Regions from separate parts of the Homo sapiens genome. Here region 2 is linked to region 1. Evidence: fine-mapped expression QTL. A gene starts in region 1. The other region holds a variant in brackets. All regions are shown on one strand. Distances are between the middles of the regions. Region 1 holds the start of ASPRV1 (aspartic peptidase retroviral like 1). Region 2 overlaps PCBP1-AS1 (PCBP1 antisense RNA 1).

Region 1 (12,184 bases):
ATCCAGATATACCATTGGCAGATACATTTGCATCGCAGAGGTGGTGGTTGTTTCCTCCAAGAATATTAATAAACTTAAAACACACTTTTGAATTGAGTGCATTTTAGAGCTGAAATAAAAGCAGCATCTCCTTCCCTGGTCTCCTGGAGTTTCCTCAAAGTCCATATGAGAGGATCCATGCTGGCCCCCGTCTTCTCCTCCTGTCTCTGTTAGCCAACACCAGCAGGCTTGTCCTTGCCTCCCTGTTTTCTTCCCTTTCCTCCCTCCACCCCAAATATTCCCGGGAAACATCCATTCATTCATCTTTAAAGACTCAACTTAAAGATCTCTAGGGAGCTGTCCCTGACTGCACAATGTCCCACCCAGCACAGGAGTGGGGAGGAGGTCACAGCACAGGGTCACTCTAAGCCCTGCCTGCCTCCCTCTCCCAGACTGTCCTAGAGGACAGGGCTCCCTTCACGTCCTTCCTAGTGCAGGGAGAGGCTCTGCTAGGAACTCCTAGAGACAGGAAGAGCACCACATGTGCCTTGGAGAAGTCACCACAGTCCAGCTCAGAGTTACACAGTTCTCCAGGCTTGGGGGTTACTGACCCACAATATCAAGCAGTCAAAACTTGAGAGCCAATTGATTAGCCCACAGTGAAAAGCATAACAGCTTTTCTTGCTACCCAGCCAAGAGGCTTCCTTACCCGAGGTTACTTGGCAACGGTGGACTCAATACAGGAGCAGTGACTGATGGGCCTGGAACGTGGGGTGGCGTCATGTCTGACAGCTGCCCCAGTATCTCCTCAGTGTAGAGGACCAGGTGGGCAGACCAGGTCACCTCCCTGGAGCGTGGAGGCTGGCCCTTCCCTCGCATGGCCACAAGGGCAGGACTCATGGCCTTCAGTCTATGACTCCAGCTGCCCTCTTGATGGACACATCGTGTCCTCAGATAAGGACACACCTTGACACTGGCCCTCGAGGCACTCCCTGCACACCTGGGAGACCTCCACTCTCCCGCCAGCAGCTGCGCTCGGCTTCCTCATTTGTCTTTCTCATTTGCTGCCAATGGCCACCCACACCTGGCACTGGGTGGGAGATCTGAATGAGTGGGCGCTCCTAAGCTTCTCTTCCATAGGTGCATGGGTTAGCAATTCGGAAACAACTTTCTGGGTATTTTAGAACTGGGCAAATAAGTAACCTGGAGCCAGGTTTCTCATTATTAGAGAAAGAAGTCACAAATCTCAAGGGGAAGGTTACGATCCTTTTGTAGCTTGTAAGCGTGATGATTGGATGTTTGCAGGAGCGTGTGTGATGTGCCACCTCGCACCTTGCTACAACATCGGCACAGTAGCTGTGTGACATGAGAAATAATAAATAAAGGGGAAGGTTAGACTAAGTCCTAGAGTGTGGGGTTGGAATTGGAAGTATCAGCAGGAACTCATAATAGAGAGAGGGAGAGAGAGAAATATAGAGAAGTGGACTCTATGGTTTTCTTCTTAGCTCTGACCACTGAGAGGTCCTAGGAGTGATGGCATGCCAGTAGCAAGAAGCACACACACCTGACACCCAGATCCTTGTTTCTGAATATCAGACCCCACTCAAAGGAACCAGAGCTCCTGGAGAAATGGCTGATCCCAGGGCTGGTACAGGGAAGGGACAAGATGAGCCTGGAACATCTTGTGCCAGAAAATAAGGAAGGGCTCTTATGATGATGGGGACACGTCCCAAGGAGACAGGAGCCAGTTTGAAGCTGTCCCCATGGCCAAATCTAAAACAATTTGAGCATCAAAATAAATAATGATTGTAAATGAGTATAACTCATAGAAAAATAAGAATCTCTAAGTCCACATGGTATAAATCAACCAATAAATGAGTAGAGAAAGCTCTTCTGTAGAGTTGAGGGCCAGCTAATAGGTATAGAAGGATAGAATTAGTCCTGTAAGCCCAGCTACTTTGGAGGCTGAGTCAGGAGGATCACTTGAGCCCAGGAGTTTGAGACCAGCTAGGGCAAAAAAGCAAGACCCTGTGAAGAAGAAAGAAGAAAGAAGAAGGAGAAGGAGAAGAGGAAGAAGAAGAAGAAGAAGAAGAAGAAAAGAGGAAGAAGAAGAAGAAAGCAGAGGAGGAGGGGAGGAGGAGGAGGAGAAGGAGGAGGAGGAGAAGAAGAAGAAGGAGATTAGAAAATCACCATCATTTGGTAATTTGGTAATATCACAGTGACAATTCAGACAAAGATCACCAATGGGTGCTGAGGCTAGTGGTGACAGTCTTATGAGAAACAAGATATTTATATGGCTTCAGAGTGTCTCCCCACAAGACACTTACTCATGACGGGGGTAAAATAGTTATTTATGGAGTAAAAACCTGGCAAACAGCATTTTGACCAAGTGATGAAACAAGTCGGCAACATATGCCTCCTGATACGATGTACTGAGGATGCACCATCACTTCTGGGTATTCCTGCCCGAAACCCACAGCCCGAATCTCACCACAACTGAACATCAGATTCAGCCAAACTGAGGAACATTCTACAGAATAACTGGCCAGGCGTCCTCAAAACTATCAGGGTCATGAAAACAAAGACAGAGGAATTACTCAGATTAAAGGAGATGAAAGAGACACGGCAACTAAATGCAATATGTAGCTGAATTCAGTCCTGGACTAGAAAATAATCTGGGGGCCAACAATGTTCTTGTTGGGATAATTGGAACCATTGGAGTAAGATCTGAAGATCAGATGATAGTGGTATTACATCAGTGAACTTCCTGATTTTGATAACTGCATCATGGTTATATAAGAGAATGCCCTTGTTGTTGTTGTTGTTTTCCCCTAGGAAATATACACTGAAGTATTTAGAGATAAAAGTGCATCATATTTGCGATTTTCAAAGGTTCCTATATATATAGATAGGAGAAAAGGAATGAGAATGAGAGAGATGATGAAGTTAATTGGAAAAATGCTAATATTTGGGGAAACTGGGTGAAACGTGGAAATTCTTTGTACTGCTCTTGCAACTTTCCTGTTAGTCTCAAATTAAGACTTAAAGATTTTCTGGATAAAAGCATAAAGAATTATCTAGTATGGTCTGGGGAACTGGCATGCATTCAGTTTGTGGTGGTCATTATTAGAGAAGAAGGCAGCTTGTAGGGCCCCCTTAACTAGAGGTATTAGAATGTTCTAGGCCAGGGCTTTTCAAACTCTTATGTCCCCTAGAATCACTTGGGGATCTTGCTCACTGCAGATTCTGGCGCTGGTCTGGGTGGGGATGGAGAGTCTGTATTCCCAACAGGCTCGCAGGTGATGCTGATGCCGCCTTCCTGCTGGTTCATGGATCACCCTTTGGGCAGTACAGGGGTAGATGCCACTGGAATTTAGACCATGGGTTCCCAAGCCTGCTGCACTTTGGGACCACTGGAGGAACTGATGTTCATGGGTCTTCTCTGGTGATTATCATGTGCTCCAAAGGCTAAACCTTCACACTGATCCTGCATCCTCCTTTCCATCATTGCAAAAGCAGACCTTAGGTATAAGGACTGCCATGGTGTCCCAGCAGAGCCTTTGCTGCTGCTTTACTCCATCCTATACCCAGAAGGCAGATGAATCTTCCTGCTCTCCCATGGTTCAAACGCCCACTGTGGGAGGCAGGTGTGAACTCCTCACCCAGACAGCAAGCCCTCTGTGGTGTGGCCACAACCCACTTTTTCTGGCTTCTCTCCCGGGCTTCTCTGTTGTTTGATACCTGACTTCCCAGAGAGCAGCTGCTCATAGTCCTGCAGCTGGGTTCCACGTTGACGCATCTGCAGCTGTGATCACTCTCACCCGCATGCAGCAGCGGTCTCAGCCTCACTCGGGTCTCCCAGTAAGAAGCACCACATGGTCCCTTCCTCCATGGGGGCCATGCTTCAGATGTCACAGACCCCACCCCTCACTGTGCCCTCTCGGGGGGCCCACATTTCTCTAGGAGAGAAAACTGGCTGAGAGCTGGAGACCTGGGGGCTCAGACAGGCTCTCCTCACTCAGAGCAGGGGAAGAAGGTGTCTGCTGCTGGGACACAGCATCCCATTTGCAATCACCCAGGACAGGGCTCCACTCCGTGTGGTGTGTGGGAAAGGGCAGGGAGGCTGGGGTATTGCTCTGGAATTCTGGCCTGGCCACCAATTCCTTAGTCCCCTCCCCAGCTCCCCACCCACCCACTTACAGACTCTTTACCCTCCCTCCTTCTACCCAGCACGTGGCTGGGATCCAAAGGACCTGGAGGAAAATAAGTCACAGGGAGGTGCCACCTGGATTGTTCCCTCGGGAGAGGGCTCGGCCCATGAGAGAGCAGCATGCGTTAGGCCACAGAGAGTGGGGCTGAAAATCAAATTTGAGAAGGGGGATGCAGGATCTGGGAGTCATCCGGAGACCACCCTTTCTCCAGTTCCCCCATCGCCTTCTCCAGTTCTCTCACCCCCTTCTCCAGTTCTCCCACCCACTTCTCTAGGCATCACTTTTCTGGAAATAGATTTCCTCCTGATCCCACACCTGTCCTTCCTCCAGGTGCCCTGGGGCTGATGGAGCTAATTTCAGTTAAGATGCTTGGCTGCCCAGGGAAGGGGCCTCGGTAAACCCCGAGGATTAGGGGCTGAGCCATGCCTCAGTTCCCAGGAGAATCACAGCTGGAATCGGAGGGAAGAAGGGGCCAGGGACGGGCAGCTGATCCTGGCTCAGATCAGCTTCAAAAAGTCCAGGGGCTTCACTCCTGCCTTCTGTCTCTCCCTCAGGAGCTGTCCAGGTGGGAACTTCAAGAGGCTCATTCCACCCTGGAGGATGGAAAATGGTCCTTCATGCCTCCATCAAGAGGTCTGGGATCCCTGCACGTTCGAGTCTCTGACCTTGCGCCAATCTTCCTGGGCCCAAAGTTTGGAGGGTGCAGGCCACCCTCCCCTGAGAACAGGCTCGCCCGATGTGCTTGGTGGGGAGGCCTGAGATTTGGAACAAACTGGCTCTTCTGTGGAGACTTTTGTCCACTCAGCTCCTCCCTTTGAGTTTCAGATTCCCAGCCCTGCTGCACTCCAGAAAAAGAAACAGAAATTTGGAAGCAAATACGAGATGGACCCCTAAAAGAGATGCACACCCCATTCCCAGATCTGGGAATGTCCTCCCCTCCATCAGGTCATCTAGTTTCAGGCTCTGTTCCAAGTCCCTCCAAGAAGAAGCTGACCTCCCACCGCCGGGACCCTGCCTTGCCACAGCCTCCCCCGTCCTCCAGCATGCCCTTGGGCTGCCCCACACAGGTCAACACTTGTCTCCTGGCCCTGCTTTCTGCCTCCAAGTTCTCGCTCCTGGACAGCTGTAAGAACCTATTTGCCCAGCAGACACTTTCCTGTTTGTTTATCATAACCATAATTTCCCAATCCCCAATCAAGACATCTCACATAAAACTTTAGGGTCACTTTTGGGTATAGAGGCAATTTGTATGCTAAAATACTACAGATTGAAATAAGTAGAGGAATTATGACGATTCAAAATAATGAGAGCAATTCTGGAGGGAATAAGTCAAAATATTTTATGCTGAGACTGTCTTAGAAAATCCAAGACCTGTCATCCCTGTGTATATGTTCTTATACCTCCAGCTAGGCACTCAGTAGACATGTGAATCTCCCTTGTCTTTGATGCTGACTCCCTCTCACATTCCTCTCATCCTCAATCAACACATTACATGGTTTTTCCATGAATCAATCTTTATTGGTGTTTGCAGCAATTGAATTATTGGCATAAGGCACAATGGGCTTCAAAGCAAATGACAGAAAGAAAATACGATTGTACAGGTGGAAAGGCTCTTCAGGGAGGTGTCCCAGAGCAACTGTGACCCTCACAAAGACCCTGCAGCTAGGACCCAGCCCAACTAAGACAGGCTTTGAGGACCTGAGAGTGACCAAGCCATACCTCAGGGAATCTGAAGGGGTCCCACAGTTCTTTCAAAGACAAGCATTTCTAGCTTCCTTGGGAGCTCTTCCAGCCTTTGAGTCTTTGTCATCAACAGCAGCTTGATGACCATGGGGACCCTGTCCCTCTAAGCCAGCCTGCTCTCCCTCACCTGTGCCTGTTCAGTGGAAGCCTCCCCTACCAGGGGCAGATTAAGGCCCCTGCAGAGGGAGGCAAAGGGGAGAGAAGAGCAAGAGTTGATAAGCAGACTGGCCAAGCCCAGTGACCCCCATGAGGATATGCAACCCCCCCCACAGCGGTGGGTCTTCCCACCAATATTTAGGAGGTTAAAGAAAAGGTGGCTTCTCAGTGGGATAGCTCCTGCCGCCCTTCTTCTGAGGAGGGGTCCTCCTCTATGAGCTCCAGGTCAAACTCATCTTCCAGGGACCCTCCCACAGGCAGAAGGCGAAACTTCTTCCCTTTCAGGGTGCATGTGCGGTGCTCAAAGTCCAGGATAGCATTGTGGTCCTGGAGCACATCAGTGCCAATGATGGCTTCCTCGGCACTCGCATTGGCCACTAGGAACTGTGCCTTCAGCTTCAGCTTGCCTAGGGACACCGCTGTATCCCAGACACCCAGGATCTTCATTTCAGCACCATTGGCCACCTTTACCACATTCTCAAAGGGCTGCAGGGTGTCCAGATCGCCATCAGTGACCTCCTCCCACAAGTTTGGGTGGACCACAGAGACCTGGGCCCCAGAGTCCACCAGGAACCTCACGGGCACTTTGCCAATCTTCCCCTTGAGATAGTAGCCCTTACCCATGCTGTTGGCAAAGACGATCTCTTTGGGCAGGTGGCTGGGGGCAGCCCCAGGGACCCCAAAGGCCTTCAGGAGGGCCTCTTTCACAGTCCCATAGTCTCCCTGGTCCTGGGGACTGAGCCTATTGTAGACACCCAGGGCCTCTCCTCTGAGGGACTCTTTCAGGAACCTTAGCTTGGTGATATGGTCCCAATGGTTGAGGTCATTGATGACTTCAAAGCTGTGCAGCCAGAGGTTTGGGACGACATTGGCCCCATCAAAAGGTTCCGGGACGAAGGCATGCTGCCGGCGGCCTTCCTCACTCCTGGCTCCGCTCCCGGCCATCCTGCTGCTCTCCTCTGGAACCTCAGCAGCAACCCACGCCAAGAAGAGAAACCCACAGAGCAGTGTCGGCGCAATCACGCTGGAAAACGGGGCCTCTCGAAGCAGAGTGGGGATGACTTGCCCGGCCTTGGGCAAGCAGGAGGGAGCAGGCGCGGTCGGCTGGCTGACTGCTGGGGCAGAGGCAGGCAGTGCTGTGGCCTGTTCACTCTGCAGAGCCTTTTTGATGCCTAGGCTGGCCCCTGGGCTCCCCATTCTCCTTTGTTCTGGAAGCTCCGCCCCTCCTCACCCCGCCCTCCTGCCAGCATCCGGCCGGACTAGCAGGATGGGTGCCTCACCCTCTGCATCCATCCTTGGACCAACACCAGCCAGCCCACATCCCAAGAAAGGCCAGCCTCTGTTGAAGGGGGACTACCCTGTACCCTCCCTGGCCTGTGTTCCAGAATAACAGATGAGGACACGGAGGATGTGATGACATTCAGGTATTTGTCATCAGCCAGTGAAGGAAGGGGAGGCAGGGACCAGACGCCCATCAGCTCAGAGACCGGGGAAGCCGCCATTGGCCTCCCCAACAAGTGACTACTTTGAGTGGTCAAAGGAAAACAGTTTACATGTACTGAGCTCCTACCACATGCCAGGCACTGGGAAGTGTCTCACACACATTCTAAAGCAGGTATGGGATCCTATGGGATTTCCTGGAGAGGGAGGCAGAGGAGGGTTCCAGCATAAAGAATGCACAGAAATGGTCTTTTTTAAGTGAGTGAGGACACACACACACACACACACACACACACACACGTGCACAATCATCTTACATGGACTCAACTGCTGCAGTAATTTTCCTTCATTGATCACCCCTGATTCAGAGGCAGAGGGGTGGCCAAGCAACTCTGGGTAGGCCCCATACTGCACTCCATGAGCATTGTCTCCACCCTATCCACCCCTCTCCATTTCCAGGAACTGTTCCAGGGCCCCTTCCCCAGGCACTGCAGCACTTCCTCTCCCACTCCCCAAGCTGGTCATTTGTGGAAAGATCACGGGAAATTTCACTCCCTTTTCATTCTGAGAGGGAAAATGTCCACTATGTTGGTGATGCCAGTGGTGAGGACCTGGAGGGCTCTGGCTCTGTGCCCCTCGCTGCAGGGGTAAAGGGTAGCACGGGAGGACATCCAGTCGTCTACAGAGGACATCTGTGAGTCCAAGGGCTGGAGGCCTGACTTGGGGCTGTGCAGGGGCTGTTGAAGGGATCCACTTTTATGTCCCCATTCAAAGGTCACTCCATGGAGCCTTCTGCCTGTCCCTAGAAAGGGCACCCACTCCTCGTTGAGCGTGTTTTACGGTGTGATCTGGTGGTTTGTTCACAAGTCTGCCTCTTGCTATGAACCAGAGTCTGGGGCTCACAAACCTGGCATTTGTGATTGTCTCCAGCCCCCAGAACAACTTCCTCTGGGACCCAGGGGCTCTTTGCTGGGCTCCAGGCCTAGCTGTGTGCTGTCACCAAACAGGAGTGATTAAGGATGGGAGAGGAGGAAGACTCGATGGCACACCTGTGGCTCTGGGGCTGTTTTTCCTGGCCAAGAGCCTGTCCCTCTTCAGCTCCCTATGCCATGCATCACCCAGTGCCTGGCGGAATCCCAGCAGTACCCTGCCTTTGGACAGTCCTGCCTCTGGATGGCCCAGGTCCCCAACCACAATGCAAGACTGTGCTGTCCCCAGCCCCTTCCACCTGATTCAGTGAGCCAGCAGAGAGGCAGTTGGGTCAACACCTCTCATCACAGCTGCCTGGCTAAGGTGGGGCCATTGTGGCATTCCAGGAGCCCAGAGGAGGGGAAATGGAGTCACCGAGAAGGTGTTGAGAGCAGGTGGTTCTTTGAGAAGACTGTATAATGAAAAACCTGCATCCAGAGAAATGGCCCAGCCACACGCAAGACCAGGAAGCCCTTTCTGCAGATGGACTTTTGCAGATAGCTTCCCAGCTGCTGGGATGAGTGTTGTTCTGTGGCTCAAAGAACTGATCCAGTGGTTTCCTGATTCCCTGGTATTCATTACCTCTGCACATCTGGTCCCCTGGAAGTGGAAATGAGTGAGGAGGTTAGCATGCGACCAAGGGAGGAGCGAGGCAGGTGGCTTGTCAGCTGACAAGCTGGGACTGCCAAATGCCCTGAACCGGCTTTTCAAACCATAGTGGTAGATGTTGAATTCCGATCTCCCTACTGCCCTTAGACTAGAAATCGGTGGTCCCTTGGGACCTCATTTGAGTGGGTTTGGTGTTCACATTGGCAAAGCATTTTACACACATCACCTCCATGAGGAGTATAACAACCTGGGAAGAAGACCAGCTCCGCTCCAGGACCCTGGAGCACAGGAGCTTCAATGGCCTCAGGTCCCAGGCTTTCCAGCGGCCAGAGAAGGGGATTTTGCAAGGACAGGGAGGTGAAGCGCTGGGCTGAGAGAGGTATAGCATAGGCGCCGGGGGCAGGGGTCTGGTGGGCAGTGGACAAAGAGCTGCTTGTTAAATATTCAGGAATTTGGTGAGTCAATTGTTAAACCAATTGGTACTTGAAATCAGACTTGGTGGAAGTATTTACATCACCAAAATTGGCAAATGCTAAATCAAGACTTTTTCCCCCTCTGGAATGCCAGTTCCATCACACCCCTGCATGGAAGCCTTGGTCACACTGACTCTCTAGGGCAGGCAAAGCACTGTGGCTGGTGATGAACAAGTTTATAGTAACCTCCACCCCTGCTTAGCTGCTTGGGCCCAAATCACCTCTCTCACCAAGGAGCCCAAGCCCACCTTGGCCCCATCCTTCCCCACAATCTTTAGAATTCTGTGCTGCTGTGGCTTGAGGCAGATGGCCCTTCGGGCTGTGTCTGTCCATACAGTTCCCTCTGGGACCTCCACAACAGAAACACGCAGGGGCCTCATGGTTACCGTGAGAGCTGGAAGGAGTTGGCATCAGCCTCTGGCCGAGTCTGGGAGTCTGTCTCTGGCTAGGATCAGGAACATGGGTAAAGGTCAGTTCTCAAGTTCCCTTATGCCTTGGGAGGTACCCATCCCTAGAACAGCCTGGAAGCACACAGAGACCTTGGAATGGCTACGCCAGAGGTGCCCCATGAGCTAAACCAGCCAGGGCAGGCCAGGTGCCACTACCTCCTCCCAGAACCTAGGAAATCATGGTTAATTATTGACAAGTATAGGTATTGGGGCGGGACACCCTCATTATCACCCATTAGCGTCTCCTGGGTGTACCCTGAAGCAAGCACACCGCACTGAACCCTGCAGGAGCAAAGCAGGACAATAAACAGGAAGGAGTGGGGCTCCCTACCCTCCACGCCCCCTCACTGAGATTTCTGGGCTGTGAGCTCAACCAGCCCAATTCTTTCTCAGCTCCCTGGTTCCCTTTTGCTGTTTCTTTTCTGCTGTTTTTTTGAAATTGTTTCACTTCTTATATTCACCTGGATCCTTTGCCTGCTTTAGTCTCCCTCAGGCCAGTTGGGCAAATCAAGACAAGCCCAAGACTGGGCCCATCAAGACAAGCCCAAGACTGGGCCCATCGGGCCTCCTGAGACCTGAAGCCCTTGGTGGGCAGTGAGTTCACTCCAAACACTTTATTATTTATTTATTTATTGAGATGGAGTCTCACTCTGTCGCCCAGGCTGGAGTGCAGTGGCGTGATCTCGGCTCACTGCAACCTCTGCCTCCTGGGCTCAAGCGATTCTCCTGCTTCAGCCTCCTGAGTAGCTGGGATTACACCACCACACCTGGCTAATTTTTCATATTTTTAGTAAAGACAGGTTTCACCGTGTTAGCCAGGATGGATCTCCTGACCTTGTGATCCACCCGCCTCGGCCTCCCAAAGTGCTGGGATTACAGGCGTGAGCCACCATGCCTGGCCCACCTCAAACACTTTAGACCAGGGGTCCAATTATTTGGCTTCCCTGGGCGACACCAGAATTGTCTTGGGCCATGCATAAAATACACTAACACTAACGATAGCTGGTGGGCTAAAAAAAAAACAAAAACAAAAACAAAAACAAAAACTCATAAACTCATAATGTTTTAAGAAAGTTTACAAATTTGTGTTGGGCCACATTCAAAGCGGGCAGGACACGTTTGCTTCAGATTGTTCCTGCGGCCTGACGACTTCCCAGAACACAGTGGCAGCTTGCACAGGAGCCAAGAGCTTTGACCACAGCGAGATACATTTGGAAATCCAAGGCACCTGCAGTTTCCTTATCCCCAAACCTAAACCCCCAGACCACCCATGCCTGCTCCTACCACCCAGCTGGGCACCACCCAGCATTCACAGTCAGTCATGGCCAAGGGCACACGGGCAGGACAGCTTGACCTTGACTGGACCCCCATCTTGGTCCCTGCCAAACCTCCTCAACATGAGCGTTCCTGCCACACTCCTCACCCAGTAGGCCAGTGTCACCGCTGAAGGACAGAGCTCTCCTGCCTGCAGGGCCCTTCCCCAGCTTGCCACTGTTCCAGAACCTGTTCTTCCCATTTGGGTCTCCCTCCTACCCTTCTTTGCCCCTAGCTCAGAACCCCTCTAACCAAAGTGGCCCAGCGCAGCCCACCAGCCAAATCCACTATGTCAGGAGGCAGCAAAATGCTTAATGCAAGTCCCAACCCTGGGGGGTCCTGGAGGTGTTTGGGGAGCAGTGGTCCTGGCCCCAGTGCCATTGCAAGCCTCCAGGCCTGGGGTCAAGGCCAGGACCAACCAAGAGTTGGTCAGACCAAGTTGCTGACTAACTCCTAGAAGTCCAATTTGCCAAAACCGGTTCTCCCCTGTTTTTATCTTTCAATCAAAGATGAAGATTACTAAGATGTCCTGAAGGCCTTCTCAGTCACCTCCTCAGGGCCCAGCCCTCCGAATTGGGTTTCTGCCTTTTTCCCAATTGCTGGTGCCCCCACCCTAGACCAAGCCGTCATCCTTTCCTGCCCCATCCTTGCCACGGAGGGCCAGGGCCCTGCCTGGCAAGAGGGGCTGGCTCTAAGGAAAGACCCTATGCAGATTCCCTTCCTCCCATCCCCTCTTCAGGGTCCCCTCTGCTTAACTGAGGTTGGGAGTGGGACTTGTAACACAGGTCTCCAGACAGCTTTGGGGACATTAAGTCACTTTTGACAAACACCCCTGCAATTA
Region 2 (12,184 bases), 110 kb after region 1:
TGGGGAAATCCAAAGATCAACAGAGCCAGGAACAGGTGGTTCCCACAGAAGCATCCCAGGTTGGAACTCAAAACAGAAACCAGACCACTGATAAGACATGGTTTATGATGTCTGTCTCCAAGCCTTCGGATGCCATTTATATGTTTTTGATATTTACAATAGGGCATGACCACATTTATCCAACTCCTGACTACTAAAAATCTAATTCTCCAAGTGCTCAAGCAACTTCCTGGTTTTATTACATTTTAGAGCTTCGGGGTAGCTCAATAACTGAGATACCAGGGAACTTGCGAATTCTTTAGCCCTTCAAATGGGCCACAAATAATGAATTTTATCTCTTCTTCCTTCTTCATCTCCCCACAAAGGCTTGGCAAAATTCCTGTCTCACTAAAAAGTTTCTAAGTTGTTCATAATGGCCCTCTCAATGGAGCAATATTCAATACACAAAAGTCTAGTTCATCAAAGGAGTCAGGTTATTTGCTTGAGGTTCATCTGTAACTAGCTATATGAGCTTGGACAAGTCACTTCACCTTTCTGAGTTCTATAAAGTAAGGAGGTTGGAAAAAAAAAGAAAGGGAAGCAATAAAACAACCTTGAACAGAAAAAAGACTTTAAGTTTTTAAGTCTAAAAGGCTCATCAAGTGCCAACAAGTGTTATTTTTAAAAGGCATACACCTCAGCCTGGCCAACACGGCGAAACCTCATCTCTACTAAAAATACAAAAATGAGCCAGGCGTGGTGGCACGCATCTGTAATCCCAGCTACTCGGGAGGCTGAAGCAGAAGAATCGCTTGAACCCAGGAGGCAGAAGTTGCAGTGAGCTGGGATCGTGCCATTGCACTCCAGACTGGGTAACATGAGCAAGACTCCATCTCAAAAAAAAAAAAAAAAAAAAAAAAGACATACCAGAAGCATACCACAGGAAACTCTAAGCATAAATAAAAATTCACAAACTTCCAGAACAAGAGAACAGATTATTACTTACAAGGAAAAAAAATCCCATTGGACTTCTCATCTGTATCACCAGAAACTCAAAACACTGGAAAGCTACTTAGACTTTGTCGAGACTAGGACTAGTATTCCAAGAATTCTAAACCTAACCACAATATCATTCATACACGAAGGTTAAAAAGAAATTGGACATAAAAAGACTTTGAAAGTACCACTCATGCCCCCCTTCTAAGAAAATCACTCAAAGAAATGTCCTACTTGGCTGGAAGTGGTGGCTCACGCCTGTAATCCCACCACTTTGGGAGGTCAAGGCGGGCGATCATGAGGTCAGTAGGTCGAGACCAGCCTAACAGTGCAAAATCCTGTCTCTACTAAAAAAATAAAATACAAAAATTAGCTGGGCACAGTGGCGCACGCCTGTAGGAGGCTGAGGCAGGAGAATCGCTTGAACCCGGGAGGCGGAGGCTGCAGTGAGCCGAGATTGTGCCATTGCACTCCAGCCTGGGTGACAGAGTGAGACTCCGTATCAAAAAAAAAAAAAAAAAAAAAAAAAGGAAATGTCCCAGGCAATTAACATTTAACTGTAACAAAGCCAGGAAAGACAAACTATATAAAAAACATGTTTCCCCTCCCCAACAAAAACCTTTTAATGAGTTTGGACCAGATGACTTCGAATGGCCTTTCCAAGTATAAACAGAAACTGCCCTGTACACCACAGTCCCTGGCAGTCTGGGTTTGTGAGTTGTTCATCACCTAGTGGCCTGATGAAGTAAATGCAGTTTGTCAAGTGCCCGGATAAACTTCCAGCCATTTTGTGAGCTCTGATGGCGTATGCAGCAGGGCAGCAGCCTGACCTCCTAATGATTACAAGAGTAGGAGACTGCAAACCCTCCAAACTCACAGACAATTGTAAAGACTTAGCTCACCATCAATTCATTCTTCAAGGAGGAAAGGAAAGCATACTCACCTTGTAACTAAATAATCCTAAGTGAAGCACAGATTTGTCAGACTGCATTTACAAAGTAGGGAGAAGTAGAAATTGTTTCTGTGCAGAATGATCTGAACTGAAAGCAAGTTTAGGTATTAGGATAAACTGCAAATATGTCTTACACATAGGAAGACTGTCTTCAAAGGTTCATGAGTTTGCATGTGGAAGATGTATTACATTTATTCTGTATAGTTCCGGGGTACTGGTCTAAAATTAGGCCGGGCACAGTGCCTCACGCCTGTAATCCCAGCACTTTGGGAGGCTGAGGTGGGAGGATCACCTGAGGTCAGGAGTTCCAGACCAGCTTGGCCAACATGGTGAAACCCCATCTCTACTAAAAATATAAAAATTAGCCAGGCGTAGTGGCACACACCTGTAATCCCAGCTACTCAGGAGGCCAAGGCAGAAGAATCACTTGAACCCAGGAGGTGGAGGTTGCAGTGAGCCGATATCGTGCCACTGCACTCCAGCCTGGGTGACAGAGTGGGACTCCGTCTCAAATATAAATAAATAAAAACAAAAATTAAATTAATGAGAAGTCTCAATTAGATTTCAATTCAAAACAAGAAATAATTTTCAGCAGGGCACAGTGGCTCATGCCTGTAATCCCAGCACTTTGGGAGGCCAAGGCGGGAGGACTGATTGAGGTCAGGAGTCCAAGACCAACCCAGGCAACATAGCGAGACCCAGTCTCTACAAAAATTTTTCTTTCTTTTTTTTTTTTATGAGAAAGAGTCTCGCTCTATTGCCCAGGCTGGAGTGCAGTGGCACGATCTCAGCTCACTGCTACCTCTGCCTCCTGGGTTCAAGCAATTCTCATGCCTCAGCCTCCCGAGTAGGTAGGATCACAGATGTGAACCACCATGCCCAGCTAACTTTTGTATTTTTAGTAGAGATGGGGTTTCGCCACATTGGCCAGTCTGGTCTCAAACTCCTGGCCTCAAGTGATCCACCCACCTCGGCCTCCCAAAGTGCTGGGATTACAGGTGTGAGCCACTGCACCCAGCCTCTACAGAAAATTTTTAGAATTAGCCTGGTGTGGTGGCACACAGTAGTCCCAGCTACTCAGAAGACTGAGGCAGGGGGATCACTTGAGCCCAGGAGTTCAAGGCTACAGTAAGCTATGATCACACCACTGCACTCTAGCCTGGGTGACAAAGCAAGACCCTATCTCTTAAAAATAAAAAAAGGCCAGGTGGCTGGGCGCAGTGGCTCACGCCTGTAATCCCAGCACTTTGGGAGGCCGAGGCGGGAGGATCACTTGAGGTCAGGAGTTTGAGACCAGCCTAGCCAACATGATGAAACCTGTCTCTACTAAAAATAAAAAAATTAGCCAGGCATGATGGTGAGTGCCTGTACTCCCAGCTACTGGGGAGGCTGAGGCAGGAGAATCACTTGAACTCAGGAGGCAGAGGTTGCAGTAAGCCAATATTGTGCCACTGCACTCTGTCCTGGGCGACAGAGCAAGATTTCGTCTCAAAAATAAAATGAAATAAAATAAAATAAAAACAAAAATAATAATTTTTTGCAGGGCATGGTGGCTCATGCCTGTAATCCCAGCACTTCAGGAGGTCAAGGCAGAAGGATCACTTGACCCCAGGAATTCGAGACCAGTCTGAACAATATAGTGAAACCTTGTCTCTATAAAAAACTAAAAAAAAAAAAAAAAAAAACAGCCGGGCATGGTGGCATGTGCCTGTAGTCCCAGCTACTCGGAGAAGGGAGAAGCTGAGGGGGAGGATCGCTTGTGCCAGGGAGGTTGAGGCTGCAGTGAGCTGTAATCCAACACTGCACTCCAGCCTGTGTGACAGAGCAAGACCCTATCTCAAAAAATTATGATTATATTTCTACCAATGAGAGCTTTTCAACAACGATGTCCTAAGAACTGATGAGCTCCCCTATTAATGGAGGTATTCAAAGAGAACTTGAAAGATCATTTGTCAGGAGAATGATAGAAAACATTCCTGTAATTGGATGGCAGGCTGGAGACAAGGAGACTGCATAAAATTACTTCAAAGGCTCTTTTCAGCTCCAAGAGTTTTTATTCTAAATAAAAACAAAACAAACAAAAACCACTAATAAATAACTAAGAAGTCCCTCTTCTATTTTTTTAAATATCCAACCAGGCAGTACAACTTAGTAGCTAAAAGTACGGGTTTGATACTACTTTCTCTTGAGTAAATCTGGACAAATTACTTAACTCTACTTGCCTCTGTTTAGAATAAGAGTACCTATTTTGTAAGATTACTGTGAAGATTAAATGATACTTCATTTAATCTTTAACGATACTTAACGATACTTTGTTAAGTATTTAAAACAGTGTCTGACACATGAATGTGTTTAAAACTAGCAGCTTAACAAGGAAAGAAAAAGGAAAGGTGGAGATGGGAGAAAGGCAAGGAATGAAACCTAAATGTGCGGCTTGTTTTCATTATGTGTACCCAAGCCTCAACCAAAGCATTGCTGGCTGTTGCTGGCCAGAGGCTGGGTTCCCTTGGCAACCAGCCTCAAAAAAGAACCTAGATCTACCTTCTTCAGGGAGACGGCTCATCCCTTGCCCTAGAATCTGGCATCTTCCCTGCACAAGGCAGACTCTCTAAGAACTCACAGCCAGGTGCGGTGACTCACACCTGTAATCCCAGCACTTTGGGAGGCCGAAATGGGCAGATCACGAGGTCAGGAGATGGAGACCATCCTGGCTAACACGGTGAAATCCCATCTCTACTAAAAATACAAAAAAATTAGCCGGGCATGGTGGCGGGCGCCTGTAGTCCCAGCTACTCGGGAGGGTGAGGCAGGAGAATGGCGTGAACCCAGGAGGCGGAGCTTGCAGTGAGCCGAGATCTCGCCACTGCACTCCAGCCCGGGCGACAGAGCAAAACTTCATCTCAAAAAAAAAAAAAAAAAAAAAAAAAAACAGAAATCACAAATACCATTGCCCCAAACTCAAGGAGCTAAGCAGGTGTTAAGCAGGTGTTACTCTTACTTCCTATGATCAATTACAGAACATCAGAGTTCAAAGAGACTTCAGAGGCCATCTAGAGCAACTGCTTTTTTTTTTTGGAGACAGAGTCTTGCTCTGTCGCCCAGGCTGGAGTGCAGTGGCACAATCTTGGCTCACTGCAACCTCTGCCTCCTGGGTTCACGCGATTCTCCTGCCTCAGCCTCCCGAGTAGCTGGGACTACAGGCACACACCACCACACCTGGCCTTTTTTTGTATTTTTAGTAGAGACAGAGTTTCACCATATTGGCCAGGCTCCTGACCTCGTAATCCGCCCACCTCGACCTCCCAAAGTACTGGGATTACAGGCATGAGCCACCGCGCCTGGCCCCAACCCCTTTGTTTAATGAATAAGGACCATAAAACTAAAAAAAGTGAAGTCCTAAATATGGCAAGTTGGTGGCAGGGTCAAGTCAAGATCACAGTCCTCTTTATTCCTAGTCCAGTGGTCAAAATCTTCCCATTTTTCATATGAGAAAAACAGAGCTGGCCCTACTACTCTTATACCACACAGTCCATACTACCTACTTAACAGAGGTAAGAAAAGACTACAAGCAGTAGAGTGCAGAGGTTAAGAGCATGAACTCGGGGCCAGGCGCAGTGGCTCACGCCTATAATCCCAGCACTTTGGGAAGCCGAGGCAGGCGGATCACGAGGTCAAGAAATCGAGCATCCTGGCCAACATGGTGAAACCCTGTCTCTACTAAAAAATAGAAAAATTAGCTGGGCATGCTGGCATGCACCTGTAGTCCCAGCTACATGGGAGGCTGAGGCAGGAGAATCGCTTGAACCCAGGAGATGGAGGTGGTTGCAGTGAGCCAAGATTGCGCCCCTGCACTCCAGCCTGGCCACAGAGCAAGATAACATCTTTTTTTTTTTTTGAAACAGAGTCTCGCTCTGTCGCCCAGGCTGGAGTGCAGTGGCGCGATCTCGGCTCACTGCAATCTCCGCCTCCCGGGTTCACGCCATTCTCCTGCCTCAGCCTCCCGAGTAGCTGGGACTACAGGCGCCTGCCACTATGCCCAGCTGATTTTTTTTGTATTTTTAGTAGAGACACGGTTTCACCGTGTTAGCCAGAATGGTCAGAGCAAGACAACATCTCAAAAAAAAAAAAAAAAAAAAAGCAAGCATGAACTCAGGATGGACTGCCTTATTTAAATCCCTGCTCTACTACTTATTAACTGTGCAACTTGAAGCAAGTTTTCTAACCTCTCTTCAACTCTATAAAACGGGGATAAGAGTCACCATGAGGTTATTTTTAAGGATTAAATGAGATAATCCATGTAGAGTACATAGCATGTAGAAAATTCTCAAC[G/A]TGTGGCCAGGCACAGTGGCTCACGCCTGTAATCCCAGCACTTAGGGAGGCTGAGGCAGGCAGATCACCTGAGGCTGGGAGTTCAAGACCAGCCTGAGGAACATCGAGAAACCCTGTCTCTACTAAAAATACAAAATTAGCCGGGCTTGGTGTCACATGCCCGTAATCCCAGCTACTACTTGGGAGGCTGAGGCAGGAGAATTGCCTGAACCCGGGAGGCGGAGGTTGCGGTGAGGTGAGATCACGCCATTGCATTCCAGCCTGGGCAACAAGAGCAAAACTCCGTCTCAAAGAAAAAAAAAAAAGAAAATTCTCAATGTGTATGCTGTTCTGCTTCTCATCATTACCAGTCATGTGAAAAAATAAACAAGCATAATAACAAGAGAGGCCGGACAAGCTCTTACTTATGGTCCAAAAAGCACTGAGACATAGGTGTTTGTTTAGCTCCATTTCCCGGTCCAGGGAACACCCAATCCCTCAGCAGGAGAAGAATATAACTAACCTATCATTCATGTCTTTGGATCTAGGGAAGAATCAATTCAGAGAATAATCGAGGCACATGCTACACTGATAAGATGCTTAAGATCACAATGAAGGTTAGGTAAGTCAGAACTCAAGCCTGACCTTTACCCCTACACTCAAGTTTGACAAGATGCAGTTTTTGCCCAGTCTTCCTCTCAACCTACTAAGGTGATGCAGCGTAATGGTTAGCAAAAGCTCTGGAGTTTGACTGCCTGGGTGCAAACTAATTCCGTCATTTATATGCTGTGTGACTTACACAAATTACTTTATTTACCTTATTTCTCTAAGCCTTTGTTTATCCATCTTTTAAATGAGAATAACAACTATTTTAATTTTTATGATAATAGCTGACATTTGGTAAGCACTTTCTATGTGCCAAGCACTATGCTAAGCACTTTACATAGCTGATGGCATTTAACCGTCACCACCATCTTAGGAGGCAGGTATTATCATTATCCTCATTGTACAAATACAGATGTTCCTTGACTTATGATGAGGTTACATCTCGAATACCGTAAGTCAAAAACATATTTGATACACTTAGCCTACCAAACATCATAGCTCAGCCTAGACTATCTTAAATATGCTCAGAACACTTAACATTAGCCTCTAGCTTGGCAAAATCATCTAATACAATGCCTATTATAAACTTGAATATCTCATGTAATTTATTAAACACAGTACAGTGTGCAGTATTGGTTGTTTGCCTTCATGACTGCACGGCTGAGTGGGAGCTGCAGCTTGTTGCTGCAGCCCAGCATCATGAGAACGTGTCAGTAGGCCAGGAAAATATCAAAATTAAGAATTTCAAGTGCAGTTTCTAATTAACATATATGGCTTTTGCATCATCGTAAAGTTGAAAATTGTAAGTCAAACCACTGTAAGTCAGGGACTATCCGTACAAATGAGGCACAGTTTTCTTGTTCAAGGCCACACAGTCAGTTACCGGCAAAACTTAGGTGTCAAAGCAGGAGGTCCGACCCCATAGTCTATGCTCCTCACTCCTACTACACTGGCTCTACTTCTCATAGTACCGGAATCATATGGTTGTCAGAAGATGGCAACCAACATAAAGTTCTTAGCACAGTGCCCGGTTCATCAAAGCTGGCCATTACTATTATTTTTGTTATCATCATTATCAATCCCTTTAAGCCTCTCCCAAAGATTACTACCTCCTAAGTTCCAATTTCATCTAAAAGGAAAGGGTTGTTTTCTTACCTAGCTACCACCTCACTGAGTAGCTGGGAGTGGGGCTGCAGTCTTTTTATTTCATTTCCTTCATGTAATACAGGATAAGTACTTGGGTGGAGAAAAAGGGAAATATTTATTGGAAACATGTTACTCTATAAAAAGCAATATTCTAAAGTCTTTGTTTTTAAAAATAAAACCTTTATTACCTTCATTAGGAAAAAAAACCATACACTTATTATGAAACTTTTTTTCAAAATAAAGCAGAGATAAATAGTATTTACTTTAAACAGAAACTGTCAGCCAGGCACAGTGGCTCACACCTGTAATCCCAGCACTTTGGGAGGCCGAGGTGGGCAGATCACCCGATGTCAGGAGTTCGAGACCAGCCTGGCCAACATGGTGAAACCCCGCCTCTACTATAAACACAAAATATTATCTGGGCATGGTGGCGTCCGCCTGCTGTCCCAGCTACACAGGAGGCTGAGGCAGGAGAATCACTTGAATACGGGAGGCAGAGGTTGCAATGAGCTGAGACGACGCCATTGCACTCCAGCCTGGACAACAAGAGCGAAACTCTGTCTCAAAAAAAATAAAATAAAAATTAAATAAATTAGCCGGGCGTGGTGGCTCACACCTATAATCCCAGCACTCTGGGAGGCGGAGGTGGGGTGGATCATGAGGTCAGGAGTTTGAGACCAGCCTGACCAACATGATGAAACCTCGTCTCTACTAAAAATACAAAAATTAGCCAGGCGTGGTGGCACACGCCTGTAATCCCAGCTACTCAGGAGGCTGAGGCAGGAGACCCGGGAGGCGGAAGCTGCACTGAGCCGAGATCGCGCCACTGCACTCCAGCCTGGGCGACAGAGCAAGACTCTGTTTCAAAAAAAATAATAATTAAATAAATTTATTCATTCAGCTCCTATGTTACAAGCACTGTTCTAGCAGTGGGGCTATAGCAATGAGCAAAACAAAGTCCTAACCATCATGAAATTTACATTCTAGTGGGTGGTGACATGTAATAAACTATGGTAGAGAGTCCCTAGAACACAATGCCTGGCACAAGCAGACAGCACTCAATAAATACTTGCTAAATAATGAACAATGAATGAATAAACAATATGTCAAATAGCAAGTGCTATGCAGAAAAAACAGGGAAGGGGAGCAGAGAAAGCAGAAGGCAGAGAGATAGCTTTTATTTTAAACAAGGCAGTTAAGGTATATTTCACTGATTAAGTGACAGTTGAGCAGAAACCTGAAGGAGATAAGGGAGAAGGCCATACTGACATCTGGAAAAATGATGTTCCTGGCAGAAAAAGCAACTACAAAGGCCCCAAGGCCTGGCATGCTGGAGCAACTGCAAAGGAGACCATTGTGGCTACAGCACAAGGGGAAGTGGTAGGAAATGAAGTCAGAGCAGCTGGGAGAGAGTGGTGTGAATCCTACATGGTCTTATAGACCATGGTAGGGACACTACCTTTTAATCCAGGTGGGATTTTAATCTGGGCACCCAGGTGACAGTTTTCAGCAAAGCAGTGACTTGATCTGATATATACTTAAAAGGATTATTCTGGTCACTGTTAAAATTAGATTGAGGGGGCAAAGAGCAAAAGGAGGAAGACCACTTAGAAAGCTATTCCAGTAGCAGCAGGGCAGGTGGTGGGAAGTGTTTAAATACTGGATATATCTTAAGGTGAAGTTGACAGGACCTGCTGGTGGATTGGATGAAGAGAATGAAAAAACAGATTTAAGGGAGACTCTCTATATATTCAATACACAGATGAATAGCAACTCTGAAATGGGGAGGACCTTCCAGAGATGCAGATTTGAGAGGAGATGTTCTGAAGTTTTTTAATAAGTTCAACAAACTATTAGACACCCAAGTGGAGATATCCAGTGAATAGTTGGATATAAGTCTTGAGTTCAGGGAAAGACATTCAAGCTAATAATGTAAACTCATGAATTGTCAGGGAATAACGGCATTTAAAGTCTTGATCGAATCCAGCCTCAGCAACATTGTGAGACCCTGTCTCTACAAAAAAAAAAATAATAAATTAGCCAGGCATGGTGGTGGGTACCTGTAGTACTAGCCACTGAGGAGGGGAGGGAGGATTTCTTGAGACCAGGAATTCAAGGCTACAGTCAACTATTATCATGCCACTGCAGTCCGGCCTGGACAACAGAGTGAGAATCTGTCTCTAAAAAATAAAGTCCTGAAAGAGAGCACCTAGGAAAAGAGTGTAGACAGAGAAGGGATCCAAGGACTGCTCTGAGTACTCCACCAATGGAGAGTGAGGAGATGAAGAATAAGAAAAAAAAAGTTGAGAAGGAGGAACCAGTGAGGCAGGAACAGCATCAAGGGAGTGACATCCTGGAAGACAAGTGAAGCTAGGGTGCAACAGAGTATCAAATGCTACTGAGATATCAAGAATAAAAATGGGTGAGAAATGACCACTGACTCTACATACATTTTCTAAACCTGTTCTTTCCTATTCCACGCATAACACTTTTCTTCTCTTTTAATCCACATAAAAATCCCAGTACTATCCAATGAACACACAGAAGGGTTCTATTTAATTCAGCTATATCCGTGTCTCAGAAATACAAAAAGCAAAAATCAATGCTCTTAATCGGGACACAACAAATATTACACAGTGAATAATGTTGAACAAATGCTTTGTCTGGTTGAAGTAACTGTCTCTCTGAAACAAAATCCGTTAAGTCTTGCTTGTGCTTAGTAAGTGGGATCAGAGAAATGAGTTATTTAAATGTATTTTTTTTGTTCTGCATAAAGTAGCAATCATTCTTGAACTCCTTTCTCTCCCCTCTAACTCAAACCTCCTAACCAGCTTAACAAAGACCCTAAATTTCCATACATACCCCTCCTCAAAAACAAAGCAAAACATGGTAAGATTCAGAAGTTAGAGAGAAAGGAGTAGGCTGTGCCCTGCCCCTTCTGTTTTTTTTTTTTTGAGACAGTTTCACTCTTGTTGCCTGGGCTGAAGTGCAATGGCACCATCTTGGGTCACTGCAACCTCCGCCTCCCAGGTTCAAGCAATTCTCCTACCTCAGCCACCCAAGTAGCTGGGATTGTAGGCATGTGCCACCACACTCAGCTAATTTTTGTATTTTTAGTAGAGACAGGGTTTCACCACGTTGGCCAGGCTGGTCTCGAACTCCTGACCTCAGGTGATCTGCCCGCCTCGGCCGCCCAAAGTGCTGGGATTACAGGCGTGAGCCACTGTGCCCGGCCACCCCTTCTTTTTTTTATAGGACAGAGAGTTATCAATCATTTGCTAACTCAAAGGTCAGGTTTAATTTACATTTTCTCCTTAGAATCTCTGGACAGGAAGTATAATTTCTGATGTCTTCACCTTAAAAGAGAATTATTGCTATAAAATAAAGCCTTTAACTTTCTGTGCTCTAGCAAGTATAGTCAAATCTCAATAATATACACTAGTGAAGTAGCAAAACAATAGTCACCAAAAACTGGATAATGTAAACATCCTTCATTCATATCTTTCTGAAATGACTACAACTTCTCAATTGACTGTGCTTTCTTTGACTTCAGGCCTTTGCTTCCTCTGCCTGGAATACCCTTCCCTGTCCTCCACTTTGCAGTCTGCTAGTTTGAAACTCCTTACCTCAACCTGCCCAGCAGCTGGGCTAACTGTTTTGGTAGACACAGGGGCTCCCTATGTTGCCCGGGCTTGTCTTGAATTCGTAGGCTCAAACAATCCTCCTGCCTCTGCGCCCAAAGTGCAGGGATTACAGGTGTGAGCCACCACACCCAGCTATACCAACCCCAACACATTTCTTACATTTCTCAGAGAACCAAGAAGTGATCTCCTAACAGCAGTGCAGGGTCACCAGCATATGAGGTCAAATTGTTACTATCTACAATATGGGTAAGATACATTGCTTGGAAGTGCCTGTTTCTGGCTTCTGGCTGGAGGCTCACTTCCCAGCCTGGCATTTATTTATGAGAAATAAAGCTCTCCTTTCCAAATAAAAAAATTTTCCATCCTGGCTAACACAGTGAAACCCCATCTCTACTAAAAATACTGAAAAATTAGCCAGGCATGGTGGAACACGCCTGTAGTGCCAGCTACTCGGGTTGCTGAGGCAGGAGAATCACTTGAACCCGGGAAGCAGAGGTTGCAGTGAGCCGAGATTGCGCCACTGCACTCCATCCTGGTGACACAGCAAGACTCC

Evidence for each region.
Region 2: its variant is fine-mapped to the expression of ASPRV1 in whole blood (TOPMed, PIP 0.99).

What each region holds. Positions count from the first base shown.
Region 1 is chr2:69,954,403-69,966,586 of GRCh38, forward strand. ASPRV1 (aspartic peptidase retroviral like 1) reads right to left here and starts at 7,229. Exons shown (of 1, transcript NM_152792.4): 1 at 5,687-7,229. The coding sequence starts at 7,034. The coding sequence ends at 6,255. PCBP1-AS1 (PCBP1 antisense RNA 1) reads right to left here. Exons shown (of 11, transcript NR_033872.1): 10 at 9,829-10,025; 11 at 7,861-9,098. It overlaps LOC124906177 (small nucleolar RNA U13), which reads left to right and starts at 1,243; the gene lies at 1,243-1,345. RefSeq lists a silencer at 7,115-7,409.
Region 2 is chr2:70,069,305-70,081,488 of GRCh38, forward strand. PCBP1-AS1 (PCBP1 antisense RNA 1) reads right to left here. Exons shown (of 11, transcript NR_033872.1): 4 at 12,066-12,184. It also overlaps a transcript of ASPRV1 not described here and the pseudogene RN7SL470P. Among named protein-coding and RNA genes, the nearest start is that of PCBP1-AS1, 12 kb to the right of the region's middle. RefSeq lists enhancers at 27-106, 1,553-1,847, 1,785-1,854. The variant G/A (reference allele first, on the strand shown) is at 6,257.